Homo sapiens: one gene and its partner. The protein of the gene in region 1 interacts with the protein of each later gene in a pairwise test. Each region holds a gene or a part of one and is shown in the gene's direction. Other genes may lie near its edges.

Region 1 (16,511 bases):
GCAACAAGTTACATGAAGCAAATGTATTACTTACAGATAGGAAGCAAGAGACAACAGAAGACTAGAATTCATTATGTGCCAGTTTCCCAAGGCTTATGAAAGCTGCCTTGGGTGGATGGAGCTTCAATTGCACATGGCCTACTGTTGTTGCAGCTGAGGGGCCCCAAAAGCAGCTTACCCCAGGCTCAGTACCTCAGGGGCCACAGGAATCACTGGGTAAATCTCATCCTACTTTCAGGGAGAGAGGAACAAGGCTCTGGTTGTCCTAGCAGTTCCTCCTTAATTCAATATGTTACATTCTTTAGGAGAGCCAGGAGCCAGGCCCAGGCTGTTTCAGGCAGTTCCTCCCTGCCTCAGGATATGGGCATTCCCACACACTCTACAGTTGTTCTTCAGACTACAAGCAAGAAATGGAGGAGAACTGGGTCAGTGCCTGGCCACTTGGAGAACAGTTCTGCAGAAAGAAGTCACACCTGTGAAAACTGCCTGCCAAGAGGAAACAACTACATTGACATGTATGTGAGCAAGAAATCAATTGCTATTTGGTTAAGCCATTGAAACTTTCTATTTTTCTTTCTTTTTTTTTTTCTTTTTTTTGAGAAAGGGTATCACTGTAGCTCAGGTTGTAGTACAGTGGCATGTTAATGGCTTACTGCAGCCTTGACCTCCCAGATCCAAGCAATCCTTTTGAGTATCTAGAACCACAGGTGCACACTACCATGCCCAGCTAAATTTTAAACTCTCTAAAGAGACAGGGTCTCCCTATGTGGCCCAGGCTTGTCTCAAACTTTTAGGCTCAGGTGATCCTTCCACCTCTCGACATCCCATAGTGCTGGGATTACAGGAGTGAGCCGTCTTCCCTGGCCTGAAACTTTTACATATATTTGTTACAGCAGTTGACACTACTCTAAGCAGGATATATACCTTGCATGTTCAATAAAGAATATATAGAAATAGCAACAGTTTTCAGGGGAACATTGTCTTTGAGGATGAAACTCTGACTTTTTTTCTTATCTTGGCCAAACTCCTCCCTAAGGGACCTTGGGAGTCACCCCTACAAACCATAAAGTTTCATCAGAGGGGTTTTATTTAACCCTATGTGACGTGGTTTGCTTTCCAACCTGGCTCTGGCATGACCTCACATAATAAATAAGGAAAGAAATGAAAATATTTTAGCCCCAAATATATTTCCTTGTCTTGAAATGACCCTGCAAAGTTGTCTCTCTCTTGTGGGAATAAAATCTACATCTTTTTTTTTTTTTTTTTTTTTTTTTTTGAGGCGAAGTTTCGCTGTTGTTGCCCGGGCTGGAGTGCAATGGCGTGATCTCGGCTCACTGCAACCTCTGCCTCCCAGGTTCAAGCGATTCTCCTATCTCAGCCTCCCGAGTAGCTGGGATTACAGGCACATGCCACCACACCTGGCTAATTTTTTTGGTATTTTTAGTAGAGACGGAGTTTCATCATATTGTTCAGGCAGGTCTTGAACTCCTGACCTCAGGTGATCCACCCACCTCAGCCTCTTAAAGTGATGGGATTACAGGCGTGAGCCAACGTGCCCAGCCCGTTCTTTTCCTTTTTTTTTTTTTTTTTTTTTTTTTGAGATAGAGTCTTGCTTTTTTTCCCAGGCTGCACTGCAGTAGCGTGATCTTGGCTCACTACAACTTCTGTCTCCAGGTTCAAGTGATCCTCCTGCCTCAGCTTCCAGAGTAGCTGGCGTGCACCTCCACACGCAGCTAATTTTTCTATCTTTATTTATTTATTTATTCTGAGACGAAGTTTGGTTCTTGTTGCCCAGGCTGCAGTGCAGTAGTGTGGTCTCAGCTCACTGCAAACTCTACCTCCTGAGTTCATGTGATTCTCCTGCCTTAGCCTCCTGAGTAGTTGGGGTTACAGGCATGAGCCACCATACCTAGCTAATTTTTGTGTATTTTTAGTAGAGATGGGGTTTCACCATGTTGGCCAGGCTGGTCTCGAACTCCTGACCTCAGGTTATCCACTCGCCTTGACCTCCCAAAGCACTTGGATTACAGGAATGAGCAACCGCAGCTGGCCAACTTTTGTATTTTTAGTAGAAATGGGGTTTCACCATGTTGGCCAGGCTGGTCTTGAACTCCTGACCTCAAATAATCAGTCTGTCTTGGCCTCCCAAAGTGCTGGGATTACAGACATGAGCCATCTCGCCCGGCCAAAACTTTTTTTTTTTTTTTTTTTGAGACAAAGTCTCACTCTGTCACCCAGGCTAGAGTGTAATGGTATGATTATGGCTCACTGCAGCCTTGAACTCCCAGGCTCCGCTTCCCAAGTAGCTGGGACTACAGGTGCATGCCACCACGCCTGGCTAATTTTTGTATTTTTGTAGAGATTGGGTTTTGCCATGTTGCCTAGGCTGGTGTTGAAATCCTGGGCTCAAGTGATCCACTGTGCTTGGCTTTTTTTTTCTTTTTTTTTTTTGAGACCGAGTCTCGCTCTGTCACCCAGATTGGAGTGCAGTGACTCGATCTTGGCTCACTGCAACCTCCGCTCGGCTGGGTGCGGTGGCTCACGCCTGTAATCTCAGCACTTCAGGAGGCCGAGGCGGGCGGATCACCAGAGGTCAGGAGCTCAAGACCAGCCTGGGCAACATGGTGAAACCCCGTCTCTACAGGAAATACAAAAATTAGCCAAGAGTGGTGGCGGGCGCCTGTAATCCCAGCTACTCAGGAGGCTGAGGCAGGAGAATCATTGGAACTTGGGAGGCGGAGGTTGCAGTGAACTGAGATTGCACCCATGCACTCCATCCTGGGCGACAGAGATAGACTCCCTTTCAAAGAAAATAATAATAATAATAATAATGTTTTCATGATGCTTTGTTGATATCTCCTTCATCTTAACATATCCAGAGGCTGCTGGCCATAGTCACGTGTGAATCTTGGGAATAAAGTAATAGAACCATGGGAAGCACTCGCTATGTCTATTGACTTATGTGCTCACAACTACACAGATAATAATTGGGGGCATATTTAATCCACATCTCTCAACTGAATGACAGTTGTCAGAGGCCAGTGATCTGCTATTGCTGTTCATCGTGCCTTCCAGCTGCCTCCACATTCTAAGGCAACTACAACATGTGAGAAGAAATCGATAGGTCACCAAAGTGTGGTATCATATGTTCTATATTATAGAGCACATATGATTTAATAACAACAAAAAGCTTTCTAGGCCAAATGCAGTGGCTCACACCTGTAATCCCAGCACTTTGGGAGGCCTAGGCAGGAGGATCACTTGAGCCCAGGACCTCGAGACCAGCCTAGGCAACATAGTGAGACTCTGTCTCTATTAAAAAAAAAAAAAAAAAAAAAAAAAAAAAGCTTTCTAAGCACATCCGAGAACTGTAGAAATCACTGTGGTCTAACCACCTCATTTATAAATGAAACCATTGATATTCAGAGAGGAAGTGATTTGCCTATGGCTACCCAGGTTTTGTCCTGGGATGACGATTTAATCCTTAAAATAGTAATCTGTTTATGAGTTTTCTGATTTTAAAAGTAATTTGTTTTTATTCTGGAAAATGAGAAAAATAAGGAACTTTTTTGGAGGTTCTAACAAGGGGGTGAGTGCAGCTACTCATATATCCTTAAATGATCCGGCTGGGCGTGGTGGCTTATGCTTGTAATCCTAGCACTTTGGGAGCCCAAGGTGGGCGGATCACTTGATGTCAGGAGTTCAAGACCAGCCTGGCCAATGTGACGAAACCTCACATTGTGAGGGGGCCTGGGGCTAAGCAATAGAAAAAATTTGCTGCTGAGCATTAGGAAGTTTCTCCCTCTCAAAACTGTGTGCTCAAAGAGGATGACCTTTCCCAATAGAGGAGGCTCATTCTTATTTTTTAATTAATTAATTAATTTATTATTATTATTATTTTGAGATAGAGTCTCACTCTGTCACCCAGGCTGGAGTACACCCAGGCTCACTGCAACCTCCGCCTCCCAGGTTCAAGCAATTCTCCTGCCTCAGCCTCCCAAGTAGCTGGGACTACAGACATGTACCACCACACCCAGCTAATTTTAGTATATTTAGTAGAGACGGGGTTTCACCACATGGGTCAGGCTGGTCTCGAACTCCTGACCTCGTGATCCACCCGCCTTGGCCTCCCAAAGTGCTGGGATTACAGGCATGAGCCACCACGCCCAGCCTCTTTCTTCTTTTATTGCAGACCTCTGGGATTCAGTTTACCATGGCCCTTCTCTCAACAGCAGCCACCAGCAAACCACTTAACCCCTTGGGCTCCTGCTTCCCTTCAACCAAGAGCAACAATCATCCTTTTCTTTTCTTTTTTCTTTTTTGAGACAAGGTCTCACCCTGTCACCTAGGCTAGAGTGTAGTGGCATGATCTCAGCTCACTGCAGCCTCTGCCTACGGGGTTAAAGCGATTCTCCCACCTCAGCCTCCCGAGTAGCTGGGACTACAGGCATGTGCCCCCACGGCCAGTTAATTTTTGTATTTTTTGGTAGAAATGGGGTTTCACCATGTTGGCCAGGCTGGCCTCGAACTCTTGACCTCAAGTGATCCGCCTGCCTCGGCCTCTCGAAGTGCTGGGATTACAGAAATGAGCCACCACGCCTGGACAGAAATGTTAAAATTTTAAAAAATTATTTTAATGCCAATTTAAATCTAAAAATTGTAACCTAAGCAGACTCTATATCATCTGGTTCACATCTTTATAATCAACTGTTGTGGAGTGGTTCCAGTTTCCAAGGAAACTACTGTTTATCATATCAGTGACCAATGACTTCCCTAATAACAAATTTTAACTTTTAATGCTGCATTTTTTAACTAGTTCCCATCTCTTTCAGTAGTTAGAAGACATATTTTCAGATGTATTATAAAAATTAGTTTTTGTCTAAACAAGTTTTTTACATAACTCTGCTGAAGAAACTCTGGCCTGAAAGATGAAGTCCAGCTTTCTTGGACTTTTTTTTTTCTTTTTCTTTTTCTTTTTCTTTTTTTTTTTTCGAAACGGAGTCTCGCTCACTCTGTAGCCCAGGCTGGAGTGCAGTGGTGCGACCTCAGCTCACTGCAACCTCTCCCTCCTGGGTTCAAGCAATTCTCCTGCCTCAGCCTCCCGAGTAGCTGGAGCTACAGGCACCCACCACCACACCTGGCTAATTTTTGTATTTTTAGTAGAGACGGGGTTTCACCATATTGGCCAGGCTGGTCTCGAACTCCTGACCTTGTGATCCGCCCACCTTGGCCTCCCAAAGTGCTCGGATTGCAGGCGTGGGCCACCGCGCCCGGCCTCCTTGGACTTTTTATCTGCATTGCAGGCACTCAGTGGTCCAGGCCACCTACTTCTGCTCTACCTTTGGACATCCTGGCAATGTGCTGCTCCTCAGCCTGACCACAACACCTGCAGTGTCCCAAACATATCATGCAGTTTCATGCCTCTGCACCCATTTCCTCTCCCTGGTCAACACACCTGGGTGACCCCTATTCTACTCACTCAGACAAACCAGGACAGGATCCTTGACCTTTCTGCAACTCTATTTTTCTCACCTAGAAATAGAATTAATGACATCTACTTCTTTAGCAGATGTTTAGGAATGAGATACGGTGTGGAGAGCACCTGGTGCGAACACAGCGCGTATCTGTGATAGTGACCGTTAGCCGTTATCCTCATCACCACATCCTTTCCCCACATCTCAGATGGTGCCACAGTCTACCACCTCAGAGAGAAAATAGAAAAGGGAGGTCCCAAACTTCCTGCTCCACCACCTATACCTGTCCCTCATGATCTGTTTCCTCTGATTTCAACAAGCAGGTGTTCTTTCTCCTGTCTCAGGCTAATTCTGCACCCACATCGGGGAGCCCCCACCCCAGCTTCCCTCAGGCTTCTCTATTTGGTCAATTCATTAATTCATTCATTTGACAAGGATCCATGAACGCTAACTATGTGCCAGTCACTATTCTAGGTGGTGGAGTCACAGAAGTGAACAAAACAGAAAGTTCTCATTCAAAAACAACATAACTTGTGGTAGGAGGCAGACAGGAAATGAAATAATTAGTAATATATATGGTGTGCTGGATGATGATAAGTGCTCAGGAGAGAAATAAACCTGGAATAGCAGAACTTGCATTTCTTTTTGAAGGGGTCTTGCTCTGTTGTTCAGGCTAGAGTACATTGGAGTGATCATAGCTCACTGCAGCCTAATTTTTTTTTTTTTTGAAAGACAGAGATCTTGCTATGCATACTGCCCAGGTTCTTGAACTCCTGGCCTCATGCAATTCTCCTCCCTCGATCTTTCAAGGTCCTGTGATTACACCTGTAAGCCCTCGTTCCCGGTTGGAAGTTACAGTTTAAAATAGGGTGGTTATGAGCAAGGGGAGCGAGGCACAGAATACTTGGGAGAAAAGCATTCCGAGTTGAGAGAACAGCAGTGCCAGAGCACAGAGGCAGAAGCACTGTGGTTTGTGTGAAGAAAAGCAATGAGGCTGGGGTGCGCAGAGCACACAGGGTGATCAGGAGAAGAGGAGGTGACAAGGCCAGAGGGGGTTGAGGGCCAGATCATGTATGGCCTTGAAAGTCATCATGCTGACCTGGGCTTTACCTCTGAGAGGGGAGCCACTGGAAGGTTAGAGCAGAAAAAGGACTGGACTGACTTATGTTTTAAGAAGTTACTTCACATGCTAGACCAAGATGGGCTGTGGGTAGGGGTGGTGGATGGAGGCCTGAAGACCCAGCTGGGAGCTACTGCAGTGATCCAGGGGAAAGATGCAGATGACTTGTACCAGGGAGGAGCCATGAAAATGTTATGATGCTGGATTTATTTTCAAGATAGAATAAAAAGGCTTTGCTGATAAACTTACAGGTGGGGTGTGAAAAAGGAGGGCATCAAGGGTGACCACAAGGTTTTGGTCCTAAGAAACGGTACAGATGGAGTTGCCACTTACTGAGATGGGGAAAATGAGGGAGAAACCGCTTGTGGAGGCCAGAGGAGGAGCCAGCACAGAATCCAAAGGTCAGTTTTGAATATGTTGGGTTTGAGGAGCTTACTAGAGATTCCCGTGGAGATGTAGAGTAGGCAGGTCAATAATAAGCTTGCAGTCCAGGCAACGGGTCAGGGCTGGAAACACAAGTTATTCTCTTTGTCTTCTTTATATTCATGTTTGTTGCCACTGTGTGTTTCACTTACCTAATGCATTCGTGATTTATTGCTGCATAACAAATTACCACAAACTTAGTGGTTTAAAACAGTACACTTTTCCAGCCTGGGCAACATGATGAAACCCCATCTCTACTGAAAACGCAAAAAATAAAAGATAAAAAATTAGCCCAGCGTGGTGGCACACACCTATAATCCCCGCTACTTGGTAGGCTGAGGCACAAGAATTGCTAGAACCCAGGAAGTGGAGGTTGCAGTGAGCCAAGATTGTGCCACTGCACTCCAGCCTGGGCAACACAGCGAGACTCTGCCTCAAAAATAAATAAATAAATAACAGTACACTTTTATCACTTCAGTTTCTGTGGGTCAGAAGTCCAGGCAGAGCTTAGTGGGCTTCTCTGCTCAGAACTTCACAAAGCAAAAGTATTATTCATGCATGTAAACCTCTAAGCACAATACCAACATCACGGTAGGTTCTATGTGAGTATAAGCTATTATTAAGAATAATAATCAATCCTCTTCCCTCTCCTCCATCCCTAAGGCCTCATCATTTCTTGCCTGGAGTGTCACAGTAGCTTTCTTCCTGGTCTCCTTGTCTTCTACCATCTGATTCTCTAATGAGGACTGGCTATATTGTGTAATCATAGCGTCATCATTCCACAGAATACAATGTAAATGGCACTCTTACTTCCCATCTTCCCTGGCACCTTTCACACTATTGTTTCCAATGTACACATTTTCTCATGCCATTTTTAAAAAAGATTTTCTCTTCACCTTCAAACTAAAACTCCAACTCCACAACAGGCACCAGCTGATACCGAACCTTTCATAATGGAAAATAATGACATTCATAAAGAGTTAATATGTGCAGGTGCTGTGCTAGGTTCTCCCCAAACAACTTAAGAAGCAGGTCACATCCCTACCCATAGCTGAAGAAACAAAGACATTGAGTGAGAAATGAACTTAGGGGTCTCATAGTTTGGAAACTACAAAGTTCAGAGATATGAAGAGTTGGGCTCAGAAACTCCTAATCTGAAGCTTAGCACATTGGCTGCTTCTTTGTGTCAAAGTGACTTGGACCCTCCAGGCAAAGGTGGGATGTTCATTCTTACTAATACGATCTCAAGCAGCACAGCTTCTGATAGAGTCTGAATTTAAAAATAAACAAATGAACAAATAAACAAATATTGATGGATGAATAGGGGTGAACAGCAGGATGGATTTATAATAAAGTAAGAAACTAAAATATTAATTATACAATCTACATGGTAGATATATTGGAATTTACTGAAATTCTTTCACCTTTGCTATATGTTTTAGAAGTTTTATAATAAACTGTTGGGGAGGGGGAAGGGGGAGGGAAAAATTGTGTTTTTCTGTTGATAACAGAGACCAGAAGTACCACTGGCTTAAATAAAACAAGGATTTGTTTTCCTTTCATGAAAAACAAACTTATTTGGAAATTTACCCTGAGTACTAATATATAATAAAATATTTTAAAAGAAAAAATTTTTTAAATAAATTTAGATGGTGACAGTCCAGGGCTGATCTGGCACCTCAGATATGTCATTCATGCCCCAGCCTGCTTCTGACTTCATTCTCTGCTGTCCCAGTGTGTGGCTTCCAACCTCAAGGCTGCCTCATGGTCCCAGGGTGGGCTACTGCACCTCCGGGTCCAAAGTCCATGTTCTAGGCAAGAGGAAGAAGGAAGAAGGGAGAGTGTACCCTCACACTCCCAGCTATTTTGGCCTCCCTTTGAAGGATTTCTGGGAGAAGTACAAGCCCACAACTTTCACCTACAAACCGCTGGCTCCAACTTAGTCCCTTGGCCTGCCCTATCTTCAAGGGGGAAGAGCAGGATGCAGTACCCCAGAAAATTAGGCCTTGTCACTAAGAAGAAGGGGGCATGCACGCTGCAGAAGCAACCAGCCATCTCAAGCAGATACCACACAGCCTAAATTCAAACTGTTGCAATATAATCAAATCCCATCAGCTCCAGTCACATATTAGCTCTAGGAGATTTCTGGCTTGCAGCCCAAAAAAGTGTGTTTTGAGGTCGTAAGCCACAGGGAGAACAAGATTGTCCCATAAACTCCTTACAGAGATGGTGTACAGGAAACGAGCCTTACAGAGACCACAGCCTATGGAGTGTCTAGCTTCAGAGAATATGTACTCCACTGGCAGCGTGAGAAACAAATACCCAAGAAAATACAATATAGCACAAACCAGGAGCTGAGGGTGAATGAAGATGCTCAGAAAGATCTGCAGTAAGAATTTCCTGGGAAAGGTAAAACAATGTCAAGCAGCACTGCCTCTGGAAATCAGAAAAATTATATTATTTGATACCATATCCTAAGCCTAAATGCCAGAAGTTCTTAAAGAGGTGCAGTTTGTCTCATTTTCTTTCCATTCATACCTTTATTAGGCTCTGTAAAAAAGATCCTCCTCTTCTACGTACCTATCTACATGCAAGCAAACTGCCACAGAAGCATCTTAATTAGTGCACATCTTCCTCTCTTTGCACATTAAATTTTTTTACTTTCCTACTCCATTCTGCTAATATTTCTATTACCATGTAAAAGACACGAGACAGGTGAATATAAAGAAATACTTATATACATCCACGCACAAGAATGATTCAAATAGATAAACACAGAAACACAAACACTAAGGGAGGTAGGGCTGGAGTTTTTCCTCAACGTGTACAATTCAATGTACTTTCAGTTTTCATTTCAACGTTCCTCAGTGGTTTCTGCCCAGCAACTGATGAGAAACATCACCTCTGAGCCAATCAAAAAACTAATTCTTCCAAAGAGCGACTCTTACTGTTTCTCATGGTGAGAAGACAATATTTGCTTTCTCTTTTTCCTTTCTTCCGGATGAGAGGCTAAGCCATAATAGAAAGAATGGAGAATTATTGATTGACCGTCTTTATTCTGTGGGCTCTGATTCTCCAATGGGAATACCAAGGGGTAAGTGCAGGAAATTGATTAGAGCCTGGGCTACAACGCATGGGAGGAGCGGGGCTGAATCGCTGAGAGTGGTGAGTGGGCATGCAGGGAGAGTACTCTCCCAGAGAAAGGGGTGCAGTGCCTGTGTGTGTGTGTGTGTGTGTGTGTGTGTGTGTGTGTGTGTGTACATGTGTACATGTGCACACTCGCACATGCACATATGGGCACGTGGGAAGACGGGAGAAGTACTGCAAAGTATAAGGAACTGCAGAGGTTGGGATTTAGTGGAAGGAAAGGGAGACAACATGAATGAAGAAATATTCCAACTGCATGTTCTTAACGTATTGTGGTCAGAAAAGGGCAAACAAACAAACAAACAAAAAACCCTTAAAATCTGTTCTGGCCAACTCAAGGCATCTATTCTGAGAAATTCTGAAGAAGAAGAAGAAAAAAGAGATGTGCCTCATAGATTTATATGTAAATGTGTTTATTACAGAAGTATTTATAATATAGTAAAATCTGAACCAACATACATATTCAACAGGTGGGGAATAGACAAACAATGCATGGTTCAGTCATAAAACATGTTCCATGTAACCATTAGGAATCATAATTTTAATTAAGTGAAATTCTTTATAATTTTAATAACACTGGATCCTTATATTAAACCATTTTTGGTATCTTTTAGGGATAGTACTTGGTTTTCTTTCCATTCATCATTTCCCCAAAACCTAAAGCATGATTTCCCATGGTTACAAGCTACTACATTGTATGAATATATAATTATTGGGAGTCTCTGTGAGCCTACTCTGACTCAGAAAGCCGCTCCTAAAGAAGAAAAAAGAACAAACAAACAAATAAAAAACCCGAATTATTTTTAAAACTCTTTATTTTGGATTTTTCAGTTTCTACATTTTGTTACTGTAGATTTTACTAGATTGAACAGCCTTATCCATAAATATTTGCATCAATCTCTAAATTTTTTTCTTCAACACTAACTTTTATAGTTGGAATTTTGGGGGCAAATAATACAACATTTTAAAGGCACTTGCCATGTGTACATGGCCAAATGCTTCCAGAAACATTTCCACTTCCATTAGCAAAGTATATAACTACAGAGTATTTAAGGTTTTATTCCTTTATATTTTTTTCTTTGGCAAAATTGTCTATAGTAGAAAGAATGAATAATAAATAACCTAAAAAATAAAAGTTCTCCCTCTGAGGACAGCAGAGAAATTTTTAGCTTAGCTTAATAATACCTCCTTCTCCTTAGGAGAATAAAGAGCAGTTTCGAGGAGCAGAAGATGTGGTGAAATATAATGTTTAGTCTGATGGTGGATGCAAGATCCAGGCAGGGGTGGAGCATGACCAGCTGCACAGACCTCTGTTCCCTTGCTTCCTCTACATCTCTCCCCACCTCCATCTGCAGACCTTGTTCTCAGAGGCCATTCCCAGACCCACAGCAGCTGGTATGATGGCTGCAGGCCTCATGCTCCTTTGTTTTGGGAGAAACTGTTGAGGAGTTAGTATTTACTGAGCAGCTAATATGTTCCAGTCACTATTATTCCTCATAATAATTAGTTATTAACTAATACATGAAAATTTTAAACTTAAAGCATTCCAATAATTTTAAAAGTAAAGGAAGCAAAAGGCCAAAGCGTCCTTTCACTCACTTAACCTCCAATTTTCAGTTTAGCATCCATCATTTTAGACTTTTTCAGGCATTTACATATATAGTTATGCAGAAATGTATAGCTTTGCTTTTGTTTTTCAATTGAATCATTAGTATAGTTCTGCAAGGTGCTTTTTAATCACTTAGTATATCTCCATTATCCAGGCTAGTGACATTAAATCACTCTTTTTAACTGCTGCATTGAATTTCCTCCTAGGGATGAGCCATCATTCCTCTAACCAGTCTCTTGTGAGTGGCTGGTTCAGTTGGTAACCACTTTTATACTTTAAAAATAGTGCTGCAGTGTCATTCCCACAGAGGCTTCTCTCTGCACCCATGCGAGTACTTCGCTGAAGTAACCATCAGGAAGTGGAATTGCTGGGCCAATTGTGAACATTCTAAGTCTCATACTCGATATTTTTGAGTAACTAAAGTTGAAATGGTTTTGTCCCATGACTGAGATCATCAAGCTTGTGACTTGTAGAGCCTTTACCTATTGTCTACCCTCTTTGTGTTCCTAACTCTACCATAGTGGGTCCAGCCCATTGTGGGTGCTCAGTAAATATTTGTTGAATAACTTTATGAAGGGAAGAAAGAAAAGATGAGTAAAGCCTGGTCTTATTCAAAGCTCTCCTAATCAATATCTTTGTGATTAAACGTGGTGGGTTCAGCCCCTGACTGACTTCAGAGCCTCTGCCAGGCAGTCTGCCTGGATCCCACCAGGAGCCACCAGGCCATAAGTTGACTGTAGTAATGGCCAAGAGTTTGACGCTTGAGGAGTCCATAGTGTTGGACACCCACAGAGCTGAACAAGGGTGGGACCAGGGAATCCAGTGAAGAGGGTCCTTCATGAATCAGAGGGGGATGATGGAAGCTTGGACCTGGCAAGGGAAGTGTGGGGAAGTGATAGGATTATGAATATTTTAATATTTTAATGCAGTAGAGTCAGAGATGTCCTGATCAGATAACAGATATTATTTTTACAGATGGTTTTCCATACTGGAACCCAAAGGTAAAGACACTCAAGGACAGACATTTTTGGCAGAGGTAAGATCTTCTTCGGTCACCATATTTGAGTTAGCCCTGGGGAAGTGGACATTTCCATGCAGAATCCTAAAGCTTCTTCCAGGCCATAGTGTCTGTCCCACACCTTCTGGTATCTCTTGATATGCAGCATAGATGAAAATGGCAAGTTCCCTGGCTTTCCTTCTGCTCAACTTTCATGTCTCCCTCCTCTTGGTCCAGCTGCTCACTCCTTGCTCAGGTAGGGAATGATTCCATGATTCCACATTTATGTTTCTGAAGCAGACAATTATCTCAATTACCTAATTAAGCAGACAATTACCTAAATGCCCTCTTAGAACCTTTAACTCATTCCCATACCTGGAAGTCCATCCCAACCTGAAGGATCACCTGTCACAAAGAGACAAATGGTCCTTCTGTTAGGATTGTGTTCCCCTCTAGGTTCTCTGTATCTCGCCTTCCCTGTCTGAGAAGGACCCTTCCTCTCATGACCCCAACTCCAAAACCCTCTGATGGAGCTTCCCCCTTGTGCTGACAGCTCAGTTTTCTGTGCTTGGACCCTCTGGGCCCATCCTGGCCATGGTGGGTGAAGACGCTGATCTGCCCTGTCACCTGTTCCCGACCATGAGTGCAGAGACCATGGAGCTGAAGTGGGTAAGTTCCAGCCTAAGGCAGGTGGTGAACGTGTATGCAGATGGAAAGGAAGTGGAAGACAGGCAGAGTGCACCGTATCGAGGGAGAACTTCGATTCTGCGGGATGGCATCACTGCAGGGAAGGCTGCTCTCCGAATACACAACGTCACAGCCTCTGACAGTGGAAAGTACTTGTGTTATTTCCAAGATGGTGACTTCTATGAAAAAGCCCTGGTGGAGCTGAAGGTTGCAGGTGAGCCTCCAGGTTTTGTTCTGAGAACATTTCTCTGTAGGATCTAGAGCAGATGCAGAGTCCCTCTTGCAAAAGCACTGCAGACACTCCTGGCTGCTCACTAGCAATTGCCTGCACTGCCTCCCAACTTAGCTTCTCTGAGGCCCTTGAGTAAGACACAGGTTTTCCTTTAGGAAGAATTCCTGCTGTACCCTACATGCTCAAGTAAAGAACTCCTTTCCTCTGGCCACCAGAGATATAAGCGAAGTGAAGGACGAGGGATAGGAAGCATAAGAAACCATCTCTTCAGTGACTGGTACACAGTCATTTTGGTTTAGTTGTGTAACAGATGGCTTCTGTTGTGTCTCCAAGTGCACACTACCATGGGTCCTGGGAGGTGGAATAGTGACTGTATCTGCTGCCAGTGTTCTCCAACTAGCCATCCCCAGGAATACTCCTGTAGTAGAACTAGCTGTATTTCTTACGTGTTGCAGTGAGGAAGAACACACATCATGGGGAGCTGTGGCGGGGTCTCAGTAAGAAGGTGTTAGAGCAGACTTGGTATACAATTTGGGCTTGTGTTAGGGGATTGGGGCCGGGGGAGTTCATAGACTTAGCCCTCTGCTCTGGATGAGATTCCATCAGGAAGGTGTGGGCAGGTTAATTCTGAGTGAGAGCCTTAATCAATCTTATGTAGGAAGAAGGAGACCAGGGTGAGACAAAAGCTGTAATTGATGAAGGGGCAGCAATCCCTCATTGCTGAGGGGGGATGTTTGGTCACTGCTGTGGTTTGGACAATGTTCATGTTTTTCTCTATGCTCACATATGATGTGGGGTGGTATTGTTTTTCCCATGATCCATCATAGTCACAAAGTGCCATTGTCTGTGTTCTGTGAAATTGCTTATGTTCAACAGGATGACACAGAGACCCGGTGTCAGTTTCCATATGTTGGGACAGCTTTTCTCTTTCTCAGTGCAATCCCTTGCCCTGTGGCTGCTGGTTAGGTTTGGTTTAAGGGGATCTCTAGCAGACAATCATAGGAGGAAGAGAAAAGGAAGAAGTCTGGGTGCTTATTCACTGGCTTCCTTACTGCAAGTTACCCTCAGGCTGGCTGCATTGCCTTGCTGAAGGTAACAGCTCCTCTAAAGGAAGTCCTCAATGCATGAATCTCTTCTTTTTTGTGTTCAAAACAGCTTCCTCTCCTCCTCCCTCTGGTAATTGGGGTGGGTGGGAATAGCCCCACTGTTTCTGACCCTGGGATACTGCACTAGCAAATTTAGTTTTCCCCTCATCATGACCACACTTTTGTAAACAGCTCCTGAATGAAATATCTCTTGAATTATCAAATCTGAGCCTGACATTGATTCCCATTGAGACCCTCCCTAATACAGGAGCTATCCAGAATTTAGGCCAAATTATCCTTCCACAGCACTGGGTTCTAATCTTCACGTCGAAGTGAAGGGTTATGAGGATGGAGGGATCCATCTGGAGTGCAGGTCCACCGGCTGGTACCCCCAACCCCAAATACAGTGGAGCAACGCCAAGGGAGAGAACATCCCAGCTGTGGAAGCACCTGTGGTTGCAGATGGAGTGGGCCTATATGAAGTAGCAGCATCTGTGATCATGAGAGGCGGCTCCGGGGAGGGTGTATCCTGCATCATCAGAAATTCCCTCCTCGGCCTGGAAAAGACAGCCAGCATTTCCATCGCAGGTCAGTACCTGCTTGGCCTCAGGTTTTCTGAGCTGAGCTGTGGCAGTTGAATGAAGGGGGATGTGTTAATATCTGTGGTCGACCTGGGTCTCTGCACTGAATATAAGGCCCAAAGCACAGACCTGGAGGCTCCTCTTTGTGCCAGGGGAGCTTCTTTCCTCCATAAAGGTGTTCGTAACACAAACATTTTCTGAACATTTCCTATCTGCCAGAAAGTATGACAGGCAATGGGAATTGGAGGAAAAACATTAAGATAAGCTCCTTATATAATGTGAAATGACAAAATGGTTATATATATATATTTACAAACTCATATCATAGAGAAAGAGCTGATCTCCTTGAATCAGAAGGAGATTCTAAAAACCTAGTAAAAAGTTTTGGCCAGGCATGGTGGCTCACGCCTGTAATCCCAGCACTTTGGGAGGCCGAGGCAGGCAGATCATTGAGGCCAGGAGTTTGAGACCTGCCTGGCCATGGTGAAACTCCATCTCTTCTAAAAATTCAAAAAATTAGCCAGGTGTGGTGGAGTGCACCTCTAATCCCAGCTACTCAGGAGGCTGAGGCACGAGAATCACTTGAACCCAGGAGGCAGACGTTGCAGTGAGTGAGAGCAGACCACTGCACTCCAGCCAGGATTACAGAGCGAGACTCTGTCTCAAAAAATAAATAAAATAAAATAAAATAGAAACCAAGTAAAAAAAATGTTAACAAAGCCCATGAATTATCAATTCACAGAAAAGGAAATAACTCACAAAAGGGTGCTCATTCTCACTCACTGGGTAAACATATGAAATAATTTTTCACTTATGATATTTGCAAAAATCAAAACTGCTTTGGCTTATAATACATGATTCTCATAGGAATGTAGGAAGGCAGTGACTCTCAGTCATTTGCTCATGTAACTTCCTGTATTTTTGATGTGCATTAGGTCAACCTCTGTTGGGGGCTCTATAGCAATATCTATCCAAACTACACACTTATCGATCCAAACTTCCACTTCTAGGAATTTATCTGATAGATAAGCTTGCATTTGTATGAGATGATCCATGTGAAAGGTTTCTGTTTTTCGTTGTGTGTGTGTCTTTTTTTTTTTTAGACAAAGTCTCACTCTATTGCCCAGGCTTGAGTGCAGTGGTGCAATCTCAGCTC
Region 2 (16,452 bases), on another chromosome or scaffold:
TGGAAACGTCACTCCCAGCTGGGCTCCTTTCCTTCTCCGTCCTGTCCTTCCATCCAGCTCCTCCCCTGGCTCCTTGGGCCAGCCTTTTCATCCTCTCTTCTCTGAGACAGCCCCCTTTCCCAGCCTGGCCTGAGACCTTGGGAAGATGAAGCGATGCTGAATTCTCAGTAGTGCGGTCTTTCCTCTTGTCCTTTTAGTCTTGGTGTCCTGATGATCCTGGCTAAGTAAGCAAACGATACTAGTAACTAGTGGCAGCTATCTTCCTGGGATGTGGATCCTGAGAAACTAACAAAAACAATGACAAGAAAAATAGCTCACATCTATTGACTGCTTACTGTGTGCCAGGCACCGTGCTAAGTGCTTTATTGTTTTATTATTGACTCCTCACAAAAATCTTATGAGGTAGTTACTATTATTGCTGCCATTTAAAGGTGAGCAGAGACTGGGCGCAGTGGCTCATGCCTGTAATCCCAGCACTTTGGGTGATCTGCCCGAGGTGGGCAGATCACCTGAGGTCAGGAGTTCAAGACCCTCCCGGTCAACATGGTGAAACACTGTCTCTACTAACAATACAAAAATTAGCTGGGTGTGGTGGCTTGGGGCACCTGTAATCCTGGTTACTCGGGAGGCTGAAGCAGGAGAATCGCTTGAACCCCAGGAGGTAGAGGTTGCAGTAAAATTAGATTGCACCACTACACTCCAGCCTGGGCAGATAGAGTGAAACTCCATCAAAAAAAAAAAGCCATAAAAGTAAAGGTCAGCAGAAAACTGAGGCATGGAGAGATTAAGCAATTTACCCAGGCTCAAGAAGCTATTGAGAGGTTTGTCTGCCACTCTAACTCAGGCCCTTCTTGTCTAATGCCTGTACTTTTGCAGTCGATCTTAACGTGGAAAAAGCTTGGGCGCTATAGCTAGACTTGGGTGTGGGGGAAAAATAATGGTTCCTACTTCACAGAGTTGCAGTGAAGACTGAAAGAAATAGTGCATGGATTTTGCTTAAAACCTGACATGTAGTTAGCACTCAGTAAATGGTGACTATTATGATTGTTCCTTTTGCCCCTCCATCATTGCATACATTGTGGCTATTCAGAGCACAGGCTTTAGAAGCAGGCCTAGGTTGGAAGCCTTCCTCAATCTTTTACCATGCAGGTGATGTTGGGTAAGTGAACCAATCTCTGAGCCTCAATTTCCTGGGGATGAAAACAATAGTACTCATCTCCCAGGACTGGAGTGAGGATGAAATGAAATACTGTATGGAAACTGGTGTTCCTTTTCTGTCCCACATACTTTCAGGTGTTTTTGCATACTGGGCCAGATTTGGCTTCCCAGAACATAGCTTCCATCCTGCTCAGACACCCGCAATGGCAGCTCATGAGTGATGGGAATAAGAGGCATTTACATGTTTTCCCTGTTCCTTCAAGCCTCACCTCTGACTCCACCCTGCTCTCCCCCTTACTTCCAGCAGGCTTGTTACTACAGTGTCCCTGCACATGACCATCTCCACCCCCCAAACCCCTGCCAAGACTAGAACACCACTCTTCCCCATGACACAAATTCTGCCCTCCCTTCCAGGTCCTCCTTGAATCCACACTGACTGCAGGAAGCCTCCAAGCCACGCTAACATCTGCGTCCCTCTGCAGGCCTCTCATTTGAGCTTTTCCCCCATGTAGGGGTGCCAGCCCTCTTTTCAGTCACTTTTTTGGATAAGAAGCAAGCCTTTCTATCGAGGTGCTGTGGCTTAATCTTGTCTCCTCGCTCCCATCAGCACCTGGCACAGGACTGGGGACATGGCAGGCGTTCATTTCATGTGAATGGAATGATGTTGACACAGGTAGTTGGTCTGAGAAGACTAATAGATTTAGTCTAGCAAGTAGCCTTGGGGCTCTACGGTAGGGTGGCAGACAGCTATGACAGGTGCATGGGCCAGGGTGGGATTCTCTGTTCATATTGGGGCCTTCTAAGACAGAGCACCCAAGATCCCAGGATACGAGTAGTTACAGAGGGTCGCTGTTGACTTGGCTGGGACAGCTCATGAACAAGGCAGGTCAGGAGTAGGAAAGGGCACAACAACAGCAGAGGTCCTTTGGGAAGGAACCTAGGAATCCTCTCCTCCTCTTCATGCCCAGCTGTCTCCTCTACTGACAGGACATTTCTAAGCATAATTAAAATTTCATCTCCACTCTTTCCCAGACCTCTTCCCTCCCTCTTCCAGCCTCAGCCTAGACCAGCAGCCCTAAAAATGTGGTCCAAAGACCCAGGGAGCCCCTAAAATTCAGGAGGTTCAGTCAAAACTACTTTCATGGGGCTGGGCATAGGAAGTATATATGGATATATAAAGCACTTCTGCATACTGAAGTGCAATTGTCATGAGGAAAAGCACTTGCACAATTGACTTGCAAGCTAAACTAGCGAATTTTTTATGGAACTCTTTTTTTTTTTTTTTTTTTTTTTCAGACAGAGTCTGGCTCTGTCATGCAGGCTGAAGTGCAGTGGTGCCATCATGGCTCACTGCAGCCTCGATCTCTCAGCCTCAAGCGATCTTCCCACCTCAGCCTCCCAAGTAGCTGGGACTATAGGCTTGCGCCACCATGCCCAGCTAATTGTTTTATTTTTTTAGCAGAGACACAGTGTCGCTATGTTGCCCAGGCTGGTCTCAAACTCCTGGGCTCAAGCATTCCACCTGCCTCAGCCTCCCAAAGTGCTGGGGAGCACTTTATTTTTTTTTTTACTTGAATGATTGACAGATAAATTGTGGTTATTCAAACTTGGGTGCTTGGCAAGTATTTTGTTAAAAATGGACAAAATGATCCTGTCACCTCAAGGAAAACAACTGTTACTATTTGTTGTCAATGATAAAAGTTACGCTTTCAAGTAAAAAGCACAATTTTGGAAAACCTGTATCAGCCACTGTGAGCTTGAGAGCTTCTCAATATCCTAAAGAGCTTTCTAATAAGATTAGTAGGGATACTAATGAATGTGATTTTTTAATATTGTAGAATCAAAAAGCGAGTCAGCAATGGGAAGATCTGCATAAGTGGGTGGACCGATATTTTCCAGATGACTAATGCATGATGTTACAAAATCATGCATGGATAACAGATCCATTCAAAGTGCAATTGATTTTTTTTTTTTGAGACAGAATCTCACTCTGTTGCCCAGACTGGAGCACAGTGGCACAATCTTGGCTCACTGCAACCTCCACCTCCCAGGTTCAAGCAATTTCCATGCCTCAACCTCCCAAGTAGCTGGGACTACAGGCATACACCACCAAGCCTGGCTAATTTTTGTATTTTTTCTACAGACAGTGTTTTGCCATATTGGCCAGGCTGGTTTTGAACTCCTTACCTCAAGTAATCCACCCACCTCAGCCTCCCAAAGTGCTGGGATTACAGGTGTGAGCCACGGTGCCTGGCTGACCAGTAGATTTTAATGTAACAGAGTACAAAAGGTTCACCGATACGGTTTAGTTTCAGATTCAACATTGCAAAGAAACATTAAGAAACAACCACTTGTGAAGTTTAGGTGTAGTTATCAAGAAGAATCCCCACACCATTTATTAGTTTTGTATTGCTGCCATAACAAATTACCACAAACTTAACAACTTAGTACGATGCCCATTTATCATCTCGCAGTTATATAGGTTAGAAATCCAGGTGTGTTCACCTGAGTTCCCTGCTTAGGGTCTCACAAGGCTGAGATGAAGTGGTTAGCTGAGCCGGGCTCTTATCTGGAGGCTCTGGGGAAAAGTCCCCTTCCAAGTTTACTCAGGTTGTTAGCAGAATCCAGGTCCTTCAGGGTGTGGGTCTGAGGCCCCCCTGACTTGCTGACTGTCATCCAGAGGCTGCTTATGGCTCCTAGAGGCTACCTACACTCCTTCTTACGCAGCTCTCTCCATTTGGAAACCATCAACGGCATAGTCAAGTTTGCATCTCTCTCACTTCCGACTTCCTTTTCCACCACTAGAAAACTTTTTTTTTTTTTTTTTTTTTTGAGACAGGGTCTCGCTCTGTGGCCCAGGTTGGAGTGCAGTGGTGCAATCTCGGCCCACTGCAACCTCCACCTCCCGGGCTCAAGTGATTCTCCTGCCTCAGGCTCCCAAGCAGCTGGGATTACAGGCACACACCACCACGCCCGGCTAATTTTTGCATTTTTAATAAAGTGGGTTTTGCCATGTTGCCCAGGGTAGTCTCAAACTCCTGAGCTCAGGTGATTCACCCACCTCGGCCTCCCAAAGTGCTAGGATTACAGGTGTGAGCCACCGCACCCGGCCACAAACCCTCTTTTAAAGGATTCCTGTGATTAGGTGAGTACAACCTTGATAATTTCCCTTTGCCATATAACTAACACAAACATGGGAGTGATATCTCATCAGAAACACTCCCAAAAGAGAAGAAATTTATAGGCATGTGAGGGACATTTGGGGGTCATTCTTAGAATTCTGCCTAAAAGGACTATTAAATACCCCCCTTCTCTACCTCCCTATCTTTGTGGGGCTGGATTTTCTTCACACACTTCAACCAAAAACCACATATTGCAACAGCTGGAGTGCAAGAGCAGATATGAGAATCCAGCTGCCTTGTGCTCAGCCAGACATTAAAGAGATTTGCAAATATTGAATATAATGCCACTTTCTTGCCATTTTTTTGTTTTGAAAACTATAATTGTCATAAATATATATTATTTATGTTATAATGTAATAGGTTTATAATTTTTATTTTAAAGTAATACATAAATAGTTAAAATGTAAGTTTTAATTATAAATATGTTCAATGTCAATAGATATAACCCTTTGGAGGTTAGACAAATAAAAGCCCTTTGGAGTCCTCAATAATTTGTTAACTAATATCTTTTATTTGTTTATTTTTAAATTTGCATAGATATTAAGGTGCTGAATGACAAAATGTGGAGGGATGTATAAAATTCACTCTTTTGGGTGTGCAGCTCCATGAATTTTGACAAATGCATAGAATTATGTAACAACAATTAAGAGTTTCAACACCCCAAATAATTTCCTTATGCCACTCCATTGTAGTAAACCCCTTCCACTACCCCAACTCCTGGCAACCACTAATCTATTATCCATCCCTAAGTAGTGTCATTTCAAGAATGTCATATAAATAGAACATAACAGTAAGCAGCTTTTTGAGTCTGGCTTCTTTCATTCAGCATAATACATTTGAGCTTCACCCATGTAGCTGTGTGTATCAATAGTACATTCCTTTTGATTGTGAAGTAGTATTCCATTACACAGATGTACCAGTTTATTCGTTCACTAGTTGAAAGACATTTAGGTCATTTCCTAAATAAGAATGTAAAGTGGTCCTGAGACCAAAATGTTGAGACCCATTGACAGAATGTGCTCTTCCCAGAGCTCTCCTCAATTGGGATTTTTGTGGACCAGTGGAATTACAAAATTTTTTAAAATGAGGGAGAATCAACATATGGTTTTCAAACTTTTAATTTTGTTAATTAAGGGCATTGAAAAATACTACCACCTCTTATTTTACAAAAGAAACCTTAATACCAACTATTCAAAGAATAAGTCCGGAATTACAAGTAGTCTTTTAAATTGAATAAGCTTTAAATAATTTACAAATCTTGCTACATTGGCCTTAGTTTTCTCCTATTGGTGATCCTCTACCACTCCCTTCCTTTCTTCTTAAGTCTGTGCATTAGTGCTTAGGAAGCCCTTGCTCAACATTTCTCCTCCTAGATCTGCTTATCCATTGCCTCTCAAACCTTTATTCTCTCTTTCCTCCCAGACATGTCTTCATGAGCCCTTCTCCTGCCTCCCCTCCCAGAACTTCTCTTCTTCACCCACCTTTCTCTTACATAATCATTTTGTCTCTCCTTCCTCTTCTCCTGGACCCCTTTCTTCCCAGACCCATCTAGTGTTTCCCTTCTTACCACAATCTCTTCTCAGTCTGATTCCATCAATTCAATGGTGCACCTACTATGTATTAGACTAGAATAGTGATGAAAATAACAATTGAAAGCCAAACCCAATGTGCACAACAAACCCCCATGACATGTTTACCTATATAACAAACCTGCACATATACCCCTGAACCTGAAATAAAAGTTGAATTAAGAAAAAAAAAAAAAAGCCAAACCCTTCAGGCATTCACAGTCCTATGCAGGAGTAGCAACAACAAATACAACCCAAGACAATTGGTGGGGGGATAACAAGATGCTTTGGGAGCATAGAGGAGGAATATCCAACCAAGAGACCCCAGGAATCAGGGAAGCAACCGTTAAGCTGAGCCCTAAAGGATAAGGAGTTTTCCAGACAAAACCAGCTGAAGGTGGAGTAGGGCCAGGGTCCACAAAGAGTTCCAGGCAGAAGGAACAGGACTTGTAAAGGCCTAGAGGGAAGGGAGAGCATTGTAGGCTTGAGAAACTGAAAGGAAGCCAGTCGGGAGAGTGGGGAGTGAGGAGAGTAGTACAAAACCAGTTTGGAGAGCTAGGTAGGGGCCAAATCATACTACTATGTGGAGAATGGACTGTAGAAAGCCAAAAGGAGAAATAGGAAAATCAGAAGGGTATTGCATCCCGGTGAGAGATGATGCTAAGGGGAGTGGAAGTCGAAACCAGCAGATGGACAAAAAAGCTAAATTTTGGAGGTAGAATGGGAAAGATTTACAGGTCTGATACAATGAGGGTCAGAGAAAGTGGAATTAAGGCTAACTCTGAGGTTTCTGGCTTAAACAATTGGCTTTCTCAAAGGGAGAAGACTGAAGGAGGACTGATTTCAGTTCAAAGGGAAATCAAGGATACAATTTTGAGGCTGGGCATAGTGGCTCACACCTGTAATCCCAGCGCTTTGAGGGGCTGAAGCAGGAGGCTGGCTTGAGCCTAGGAGTTTGAGACTAACCTGTGCAATATAGTGAGACCCCATCTCTACAAAAAAATTATAAAAATTAGCTGGGCGTGGCGGCACATGCTTGTAGTCTCAGCTACTTGGAAGGCTAAGGCAGGAGGATCCCTTCAGTCCAGGAGTTCAAGGTTATTGTGAGCTGTGATCATGCCACTTGCATTCCAGTCCAGGCAACAGAGCAAGACCCTGGACATGTTGCATTTGAGACAACTTTCAGCTATCCAAATGGAGATGCCAGTATATAAAGGTCTGAAGCCCAGAGAAGTCTGGGCTGAAAATGATGATTTGGAAGTCGTCAGATGATAGAGGATAACTGAAACCACAGAGGATAAATGAGACTTCCCAGAATGGGAATGCAGAGTGAGGAACGAGGACTTAGGTCAGGCTCCTGAGAAGTGCCCATATTTAAGGGTCTGGCAGAGGCAGAGGTACCAATGAAGAAGTACCCAGAAAGATAAGAGGGAAACCAGAGGAGTGTTGTTATCACAGAGGCCAAGAGGAGAAAGTATTTCAAGGAAGACAAGGTTATCAAGGGCATTGAATGTTGCATAGAGGTCATGGAAATTAAGGACTAAAAAGTGGCCATTGGATTTGGTGACATGCGGTCATTGGTAACTGTGACAAGAACTTCTTTTGGTGGAACAGTGAGGGTGAAATGTCTCTAAGTCTCTCTCTGCCCTAGACCCTAACTCCTTCTCCCAGAGTCCATCCCTACACCCTCTTCCTTAGAGTCTCTTACTTCTCCTTCTAGACTCCTCTTTTCATAGCATCATTTCCTCCCTGCCCTTCAAGACCTTGCTTTCTACAGAGCTCTCTTTGATTTTCTTCCTCAAAGACCCTTTTTCTCTCTTCTCCTTTTCTCTTCCCCCAAACCACCTCTTCCCATACTCTTATTTCCCTCCCTTTATTCTCTCCCTACTCACTTGTCTCCTGAACTAAATGCTGCTTTTCTCAGACTGCTATTCTTTCCTGTTCTTTCAGCCCCCTCTCCATTCCCGCACCCATCTAAGCTCTTTGGATCTCAGCAGGGGTCTTGGCAGAAGGATTACTAAAGAACCTCCTAGGCTCAACACTGAGGAGTCATAGTATTTGGCATGATTCCACCAGGATCTGACAATGCCGACCTGAAGGAAACACAGTGTTAGAACCCAGTCCTTGAATGATTGCCAATCTGGAAACCACATCCTGCCAACACAGTCTCCTCATCCGCCCTGGCACCTGCCCCTAAGATTCTGCCTTTTCCTATCCTCAATTGCACAGTCACTATGAACTGATAAGGTGCCCCTCTACTACATTCTGCATTCAATCAGCATTTTCTACTTGTCAAAATGCATTCACATTCATTCACCCAGCCTTGGGAATTCGGCTGGGTGAAGCCTGGGAAAAGAAAATGGAGAGGCTTGCCTGAGGTCACATAGTTGGTTAGAGGATTAGCCTGGTATCCCTCCCACCCCTTCAGCCTTGCTTGCTTTCATGCCCAAAGACTCCCCAGGCCTGAGCTCAGGCATGGCTGCCCTTTTAGCGTGTCCCAGCCTGCCAAGAGGGAGTGCCCTGGAGAGACCCTTGCTCAGGAGCACTGCCAGGGGATCAGTGCCCCATTTGTACCTGCAAGGTAGGGATGGGCCGCCTTGGGAAGGAGGATGATTTCTGGTTTGCTTCACTGAGTTCACCCTAGGCAACAAATCCGACTGTTTGCTTTGATATGACTTGAAAAATAGAGTCAAGCATAATGACTATGAGGCAAGCTCTAGAGGTGGCCAGGTTTGGTACCCAGGCCTTGCTCTGTACTAGCACAGTGAGACCATGGATAGGAAACACCTCAGCACAGTGCCTGGCACCTAGCAAGTGTTCAATGAACCGTGGCCTTATCATTTGTACATGGGAATCCTTGGGAGGGAGTTGGTGTTGTACACTGCAAAGTTTGCCAAGCTAGATATCTACAGACCTAGATTCCAAGTCTAACTATTACTGCTCAACTTGGGATGTTGGGCAACTCTTTTCATCTCATTGGGCCGAGGTTTCCTCATCTGGAAATAGTAATGGCTGTCTTATTTTTGTAACATGTTGTATTGGCCTTTAAAACATGCACACTCTTTCACCTAGCAATTCTATTCTTAAGACTTTGTCAGTATTATGTGCAAAGATGCTGGGTTATAGTGAAAATGAAAATAACAAAACGTCTAGTAGTTTACGATTAAATAAATCATATTTTATATGATAGAATGCAGTGCAGCCATGACAGAATGATGTAGTTCTGTGTTTTAATTGACATGGAAATAGGTCCACGATATGTTATTTACAAATGATGTAAGGTTACATAAACTGTAGGTATAGTGTGATTCAATTTTATAAAACAAATCCCATCGATATCTTCTACAATACATCAAAATGTTAGCAATGATTATTTCTGGCTGGTGGCATTATGAGGACCTCTATTTTCTTCTTTATAATTCATTTTCTGAATTCTTTTCAATAGCATCTAGTATTTTTCTACTTAGAAAAAACTAGAAAGCTTTTTTGCGTTGGGAGAGTAAAGCCAGTCACTGCGCTCTACTACTCCACAGCATGTTTTTTTGTTTGTTTGTTTTGGTTTGGTTTTATTTCTGTTGTTGTTTGGGTTTTTGTTTGTTTGCTTTGCTTTTTTGAGATGGAGTCTCACTCTGTCACCCAGGCTGGAGTGCAGTGGTATGATCTCGGCTCATTGCAACCTCCGCCTCCTGGGTCCAAGTGATTCTCCTGCCTCAGCTTCCCGTGTAGCTGGGACTACAGGTGCGCACCACCACATCCAGCTAATTTTTGTATTTTTAGTAGAGACAAGGTTTAACCGCGTTGGCCAGGCTGTTTTCGAACTCCTGACCTCAGGTGATCCACCCGCCTCGGCCTCCCAAAGTGCTGGGATTACAGGCGTGAGCCACTGCACACGGCCTTCACAGCACTTTTGAGAGGCTTAAATGACATAGTGCATGGCACTGCCATGTGTGGTAAAAAGGAGAGCCCTGTCCTTATGCTGGCCTACTCAGTTCCACCTTGTAGGACCTGCTCTTTGAACTCAGAGTCTGAACCTACAGTACCCATGTTTGCCCTTGAGCCTTGGGACCAACCTTAGGGGTGGGGTAGGGCTGAGGGCCTGCCAGAGAATCAAGCTGAGTAGAAAAGTCTATGGAGCTGCAGGCCATGCAGGGCTGCTTGGGCACTGGCTCACCAGGGCTGTGTTTATGCAGCTTACTCCCTGCTGGGCTTCAGGGCTGCTAGCCAGGGACACCTAATTGGTGGGACAGAGCCCCCTCCTCTCACCACCCTCAAAGCTGGAATGTTCTGAATTCCTTCTTGGGCCAAATCCCCCTCCCCACAAGGCCTCTCCTGGGTTCACAGAGGTCACCACACAAAAGCCCAGCTGGAGTGGAGTTTTTGACAGAAAAAAAAAAACACACACAGAAAACCCACCAAACCTTTTTTTTTTTTTTTCTAAAGTGCCTCAATCTTTCCCAGCCTCCAGGGGTTTAATTCTGATCTGTAATAAGTCTCTGACCCACGGCTCAGATTTGCAGATGGATTTTGCAAAGCTGTGGTTAACGATTAGAAATCCTTTATCACCTCAGCCCGTGGCCCCTTGTACTTCGCTCCCCTCCCTCAGGATCCCTTTCTCCCTCTCCAGGGGCATCTCCCCCTCCAAGGCTCTGCAAAGAACTGCCCTGTAAGTATCTCCATCCTGATATAGTTGCTGCCTTTTAAATTCACCGAGGTGGGCACTCTTCCTTCCTAGTCACTATCCATTCACCCCATGGTGGAGCCAGGCTGGGCCACCTTGGGTTTCTGAGTGAAGGGTATGGGAGGGGAAACTCCGGTGGCATTTGGGTTGGTGGTATTTGTTCCCTCAAAGCTATCACAAAGGTTCAAATCTTTAAAACTTCAGGACCAGAGAAAGCACTCTCCAAATCAGATATTTTCTGGTTTGGGGGCTTAAAAGGACTGGGATAAAAATTGGAGGAAGGGAGCCACAGTTTACCCCTCTGCCTAAGTGTAGGGGACTGAGGAGTGGCAGAAGGGGCACTCCCTCACAGCCAGCTCCAGTGCCCTCCTTGGCATGAAGGCTCAGGGAGGTAGCAGAAGGTGGGTTCCTAAGTGAAGTCATAAAGTTTCCCCATGAGGTCCTTCAAGGACTCTCCCTCACTGGTCTGCAAGTCTGTCATTAGAAATTCCTTCTTTCGACTGAGGTATTACTCTCTTCAAGTGCCCTCTTTGAAAATGCAGTTGGAACCAAAACATTCACAGCACTTATGGCCGGGGAGATCGTAGGCGATTTTTGTTTTCTAAATTCTGCCTTTCTGTGTTTTCCAGTGTTCTAAAGTGAGAATGCTTTACTTTGATGATCAGGACAAAAATCAACTTCTTTTTCAAACAATAAGAAAATCTCTCAATCCAGTTGCAATTCTCTGAACTGCCATCAATCAATTGATGTAGAAGGAAAGATGAACTGCTCTAAGGACAAACTTTCAAGAAAGTAGGGCCTCAAGGGAATGGCTTTGCCACCTACTAGTGCCCTTGGCAGCTGGAAGTGAGTTTCAGAGAAGGGGGCAAGTGTCTCAGATTCTTATGAGGGGCAGTGAGATCAAGGGATATAGAAATGAGGCTGACTGACAGAAGAGGGCTGTGGTGGCCATCATCACCCCCAGAAGGCCACATCAGTTCCTTCCTTGAGCCTGGGAACCCCAAGTGCCCTGTCCCATGTAGTCTTAGGAGGGTACTGCCAAAGAAAGAGTACCATGCACAAGACTCTTGGAGCAAGAGATGGGGAGAATAGCAGGGAAAGTACCTAGGTGAGAAGGGGTTAAGTCAGGAGCTGCGGTCAATCTTGACCCTCCTAATCCTCTCCTGCAGCTCCAATCTCCCCACTAGGGAAGATTAAGTAAGGATCCTAAGTTAAACTTTCTTGCCCAGTCCTTGGGCCATGGAGTATGTTGGCCCTATGCCCAGAAGACAAATTCAGCTGACAAGGCCTAGAGTCCTCTGTACCTCCAACGCAGCCAGTACTTGACTTCTAGGAGGATCCCTCAAAGAGAGGCTTCTATTAAAACTGGCTGCTTCTAATAACAGCTCTTCAGTCTTCTATATTTGTCAAAGTGGCTTCCTGTCCCCATGCCTTTATTTGAGACTAAAAATCTTGGAGATGACAAACTAGGGCCTAGAGAAGCTATAGGACTTCCTCAGCAGGTTCTAGGCAGAACTGACACAACAAGAAGCTAGATCTTTTGATTCTAACACCAGGACCCTGTCTGCCCTCACCTCTACTGCTCATCAGACAAACAAAAACCTGGCTGAATCCAGCCTGTCTCACCACCCAACCATTCGCCATTTAGCTGGTCTTCCTAACTCTGGTGGAAAGCTGAACCCCCCCTCCATGGGGCCATTTCTATCACTTGAATAAGCTCCAATAACTTGTTCTTCCTCCTGCCTGGGCATGCTGCTATGCCAAGTCAGACTCTAGAGATTCCAAGCCTCAGTAATGGCATTTTCTTGACTCTGCCCTCTCCCTCACCCCAAAACACTTGCCTACTTACTACTACTTAGGACAGGCTCTGGGGAGAGGCTTTCCTCTTGGGGACACTGTTGATTCCCTTGGGAAACTCAAGCTTGACTCTTCAGCTGCCATCCCAGGAAGGCTGAAGCAGGAGCTGCTCCTCTGGGAAGCAGTAGGTCTTCCCCTTGAAAACCTCAAGGTATCTCACCAATTCTCACTGAAAGCTCAGATACAAATAGGAGGAAGAAAGGAAAAGTATTGAACCCAGCCTGGGTGAGGAGCAGGGAGGGCCCAAGGATGGTTTCAAGGCAAGGATGCATCCTCAAAGATGATTTGCAATTATCCAAGCAAATGGTGGATGGTAGAATAGCATGCTTACGGGCTTGGAGACAGAGAGAAAGGCAGTCAGAGAAATTCAAGTGCTTAGGTTTGGCTGGATCATATGTGTATGTATAGGAGCATAAAGCATGAGGTTGGAGGTTAATGGTGTGAGATGAGGCTGTGAAGAAAAGCCGGGGTGAAATAATGGAGGGCTTTCTTGGTTTCCTGGGCTAGCAAGTTTGAACTTCATCCTGAAATACTTAAGAGCTCTGAAGATTTTTTTTTTTTTTTTTTTTTGAGACAAAGTTTTGCTCTATCGCTCAGGCTGGAGTGCAGTGGCACAATCTCGGCTCACTGCAACCTCCACCTCCCGGTTCCAGCGATTCTCCTGCCTCAGCCTCCCTAGTAGCTGGGATTACAGGCACATGCCACCACGCCCAACTAATTTTTGTATTTTTCGTAGAGACGGGGTTTCACTATGTTGGCCAGGCTGGTCTCAAACTCCTGACCTCGTGATCTGCCCGCCTCGGCCTCCCAAAGTGCTGGGATTATAGGCGTAAGCCACCGCACCCGGCTGAGCTCCTGAAGATTTTTAAGCATGGCAAAGCGTGAGGTGAAAGTCACAATTTGATTTCAACTTTACAAAGATCTTTGACTACTGGGTAGGTAATTCATTATTGCAGGATTGGGGCAGAAGTGGAATTAGAGAGATCAATTTGAGGTGTCTATGAGATTTTCAAATAGACAAGAAACGATGGTTGCATAGTCTGAACTATGGTTTAGGGCAGTGGCGACAGAAAGAAGTAGATGGATTCACAGTCTATTTTTGAAGGCAGACCTGATGGTACATTATAATTAATTATATGTCAACAAGAGGTGAAAAAGCAAGGATGACTGGCTTGGGTTATTAACTCAGTGACAGCCCCACTGAGGTAAGGAACACTGCATGAGGAGCAGTTTGGGCATGGGGAGCAAAAAGGGCAGATGATTCCAGCTTTGCAAATGTTGAATTTGAGGCCATTAAAACATTCAGGTAGGGCCATTCCAAGTAATAGTTAACTACACAAATCTTGAGTTCAGGAGAGAAATCTGTGGCAGAGATATGAATTCAGGAGTCACTGGCATGGAGACAGAGAGGATGAGATAACCCATGAAGAATGTGAAGGATAAGAAGAGCCATCTAGAAGTCGAGATGAAACCCTGAGGAGGCTAGAGGGGCAGAGATGGATAGTTAGACTTAAAGAGTGAGCAGAAGAAGAGGAACTTATAAGGGAAAACTAGAAGAATCATTTTGAGAAGTAGTTAAAATGGAGTGGTGTTACAGAAAACAAGGGAGAAGATAGTTTTATGAAGGAGAGAGACAAGGTGAGATGACAGAGATATGATCATTGAATTTTGGATCAAGAAAAGAGTTGATAACTTTGGTGAGAATATTTTCAGTGGAGGGCTAATGGTGGAAGCCAGACTGCAGAGGGCTGAGCAGTGAGTGGGAGGGTGAAGAAGTGGAGACATCAATAATGAATGGCTTGTTTAAGGATCTTGGCTGCAAAGAGAATGATCAAGATAGGAGTAATAGCTGCACAGGGAGGAGGTAGAGTAGGGAGCTCAAAAAGTAGTAGTAAATGTTTGAAGCAGTCATCAGAAGGGTGCTTACCAGGGAGAAGTAGAAGGATTTCCAAGCAGCACTGAAGGCCTCAATGAGATACATAGTCATGATCAGGACAGGTACAATTGTGCCAAGGTTAGCAATAAGAAACCAATGTCAAGAAAGACTTGCTAATGAGTGACAGAGGTGAGATTCAAACTATGTTTCTCTCCCTTCATCAAATGTTTATCGGCTCCTGCTCTGCACTGCTTTGCATCAACACTGGCATTGGTGTTTCCAATGCTGATGAATCGTATTGACTATCAATCATGTGCCCAATGCTGTGGAAGCATGATAGACATTTAATATATATTTTTTCACCCTTAAATTGTTTAGAATTTGGTTGAGGAGACAAAATATTCCACAAATGCATATATATTATAAATATATATAATATACATTATATATATACATAGTGAAGCTCTGCTGTCTCTCTCTCCCCCCTTACCTCTTTCTTCCTCTGATCCCCCATCTCTCTCTTTCTTCTTTCCCAACGTTGGGCAGCACTTCAATGACCCTTACACTGAAGCGTTATTGACTCATTTGGAAAGTCCCTATATTTTAGTCATATGGAGCCCCTCAAACCTCTTTGCCAACTTCATTCATTTATTAAGAAGACAGTTTTTGAATTGCTGCTCTGGATAAAGCAGTATGTAAGGCACATGAGATACAGAGATACATAAGATATAGTCTTGCCCTCAAGTAGCTCACAGGCTAATAGGGAAGAATGAGGGTTTAAACAGGAAATTGCAACATAATGCAAAATGTACTATCTCTGCCTCAGTTTCTTCATCTATACAATAGGGATTATTAGTGCCTACCACAAAAAAACCTGTGACGACTAAATAAGTTAGCATGTAAAAAGTGCTTATAATGGTCCCATAAGAAACACTACATAAGTGTTGCTATTATTATTATTACTATGATGGAAGTAAACACAAGATACTGTAAGAATAGACAGGAGGGGTACTTGACCCAGGCTAGAGTAAGAGACATCTGTGCTGAATCCTAAAAGATGAGAAGGCACTAAACAGAGGAAGAAGAATACATAACACTCTGCATAGAATATTCTGTTCTATTTCTATTTGGGAGCAAAAGACCACATGGCATGATTGAAGAACTGGAAGTAATTTAATTCCACAATAGTACAGACTATGAGGAGGGAAATGGCAAGAGATGAAGCTTGAGAGGTCATGGGGTAAACCAAGCAAGTTTGGACTTTACTTTTTAGCAAATGGGGAGCCACTGGAATGCTTTATGTAGAGTAGTGACTCGATCAGATTAATGTGTTGAAAGATCACCTTGGCAATGATGTGGAGAATGAATTGGGAGAAAGACAAGTTAGAAAGCTGTTGCTATAATCCAGGTGAAAGAGAATGATGAGGTCGTGCATGGTGGCTCACACCTGTAATCCCAGCATTTTGGGAGGCTGAGGTGGGCGGATCACTTGCAGTCAGGAGTTGGAGATCAGCCTGGCCAGCATGGCAAAACCCTGTCTCTACTAAAAATACAAAATTAGCTGGGCGTGGTGGCGTGCACCTGTAGTCCCAGCTACTCAGGAAGCTGAGGCACAAGAATCACTTGAACCTGGGAGGTGGAGATTGCAGTGAGCTAAGATCACGCCACCCCACTCCAGGCTGGGCAACAAAAGCAAAATTCGGTCTCAAAAAAAGAATGGTGAAACTGAACTAGGGAAGTAGCAGTGGAAATGGAGAGAAAGGAACCATGGATTTGAGGTATATTCATAAGGTAGAACTGGTGGGACATAGGGACTATAGGATGCAGGAGGTAAGTAGAAGAAAGGTGCTAAAGATCACTTTCCGGATTTTGGTCTGGCACAAGTGGATGGATAGAGGTATCATTCAGTGAACACAGGGAACACAGGGAAGAACTGTTTGGGGAAAGCTGCATGGGGGATGTGATGAGTTCACTTTTGGACATGTCAAATTCGAGATGTCTATGAGATTTCCCTGTGGAGATTCTGACTAGGTGATTGCTCTGCCAGTCTTGAAGCTCAGAAGGGTCTATCCTGGAAATTCAGATTTGGGAGGGTCAGTGGATGGGTAGTAGATTAAGTTATGGGGGCAAGAT

The links.
Region 2: the proteins of BTN3A2 (region 1) and CLDN2 interact in binary tests that used the Homo sapiens proteins (3 or more experiments, as listed by UniProt).

The regions. Positions count from the first base shown.
Region 1 is NC_000006.12:26,355,242-26,371,752, forward strand, and holds the start of BTN3A2 (butyrophilin subfamily 3 member A2 isoform a precursor), read left to right. Parts: upstream 1-9,956; 5' UTR 9,957-10,095; coding exon of another isoform or gene 10,096-10,111; intron 10,112-12,733; exon of another isoform or gene 12,734-12,748; 5' UTR 12,749-12,809; intron 12,810-12,936; 5' UTR 12,937-12,941; coding exon 12,942-13,026; intron 13,027-13,323; coding exon 13,324-13,671; intron 13,672-15,080; coding exon 15,081-15,362; intron 15,363-16,511. UniProt on the Homo sapiens protein: Plays a role in T-cell responses in the adaptive immune response. Inhibits the release of IFNG from activated T-cells.
Region 2 is NC_000023.11:106,909,981-106,926,432, forward strand, and holds the start of CLDN2 (claudin-2), read left to right. Parts: upstream 1-10,421; 5' UTR 10,422-10,571; intron 10,572-16,452. UniProt on the Homo sapiens protein: Forms paracellular channels: polymerizes in tight junction strands with cation- and water-selective channels through the strands, conveying epithelial permeability in a process known as paracellular tight junction permeability.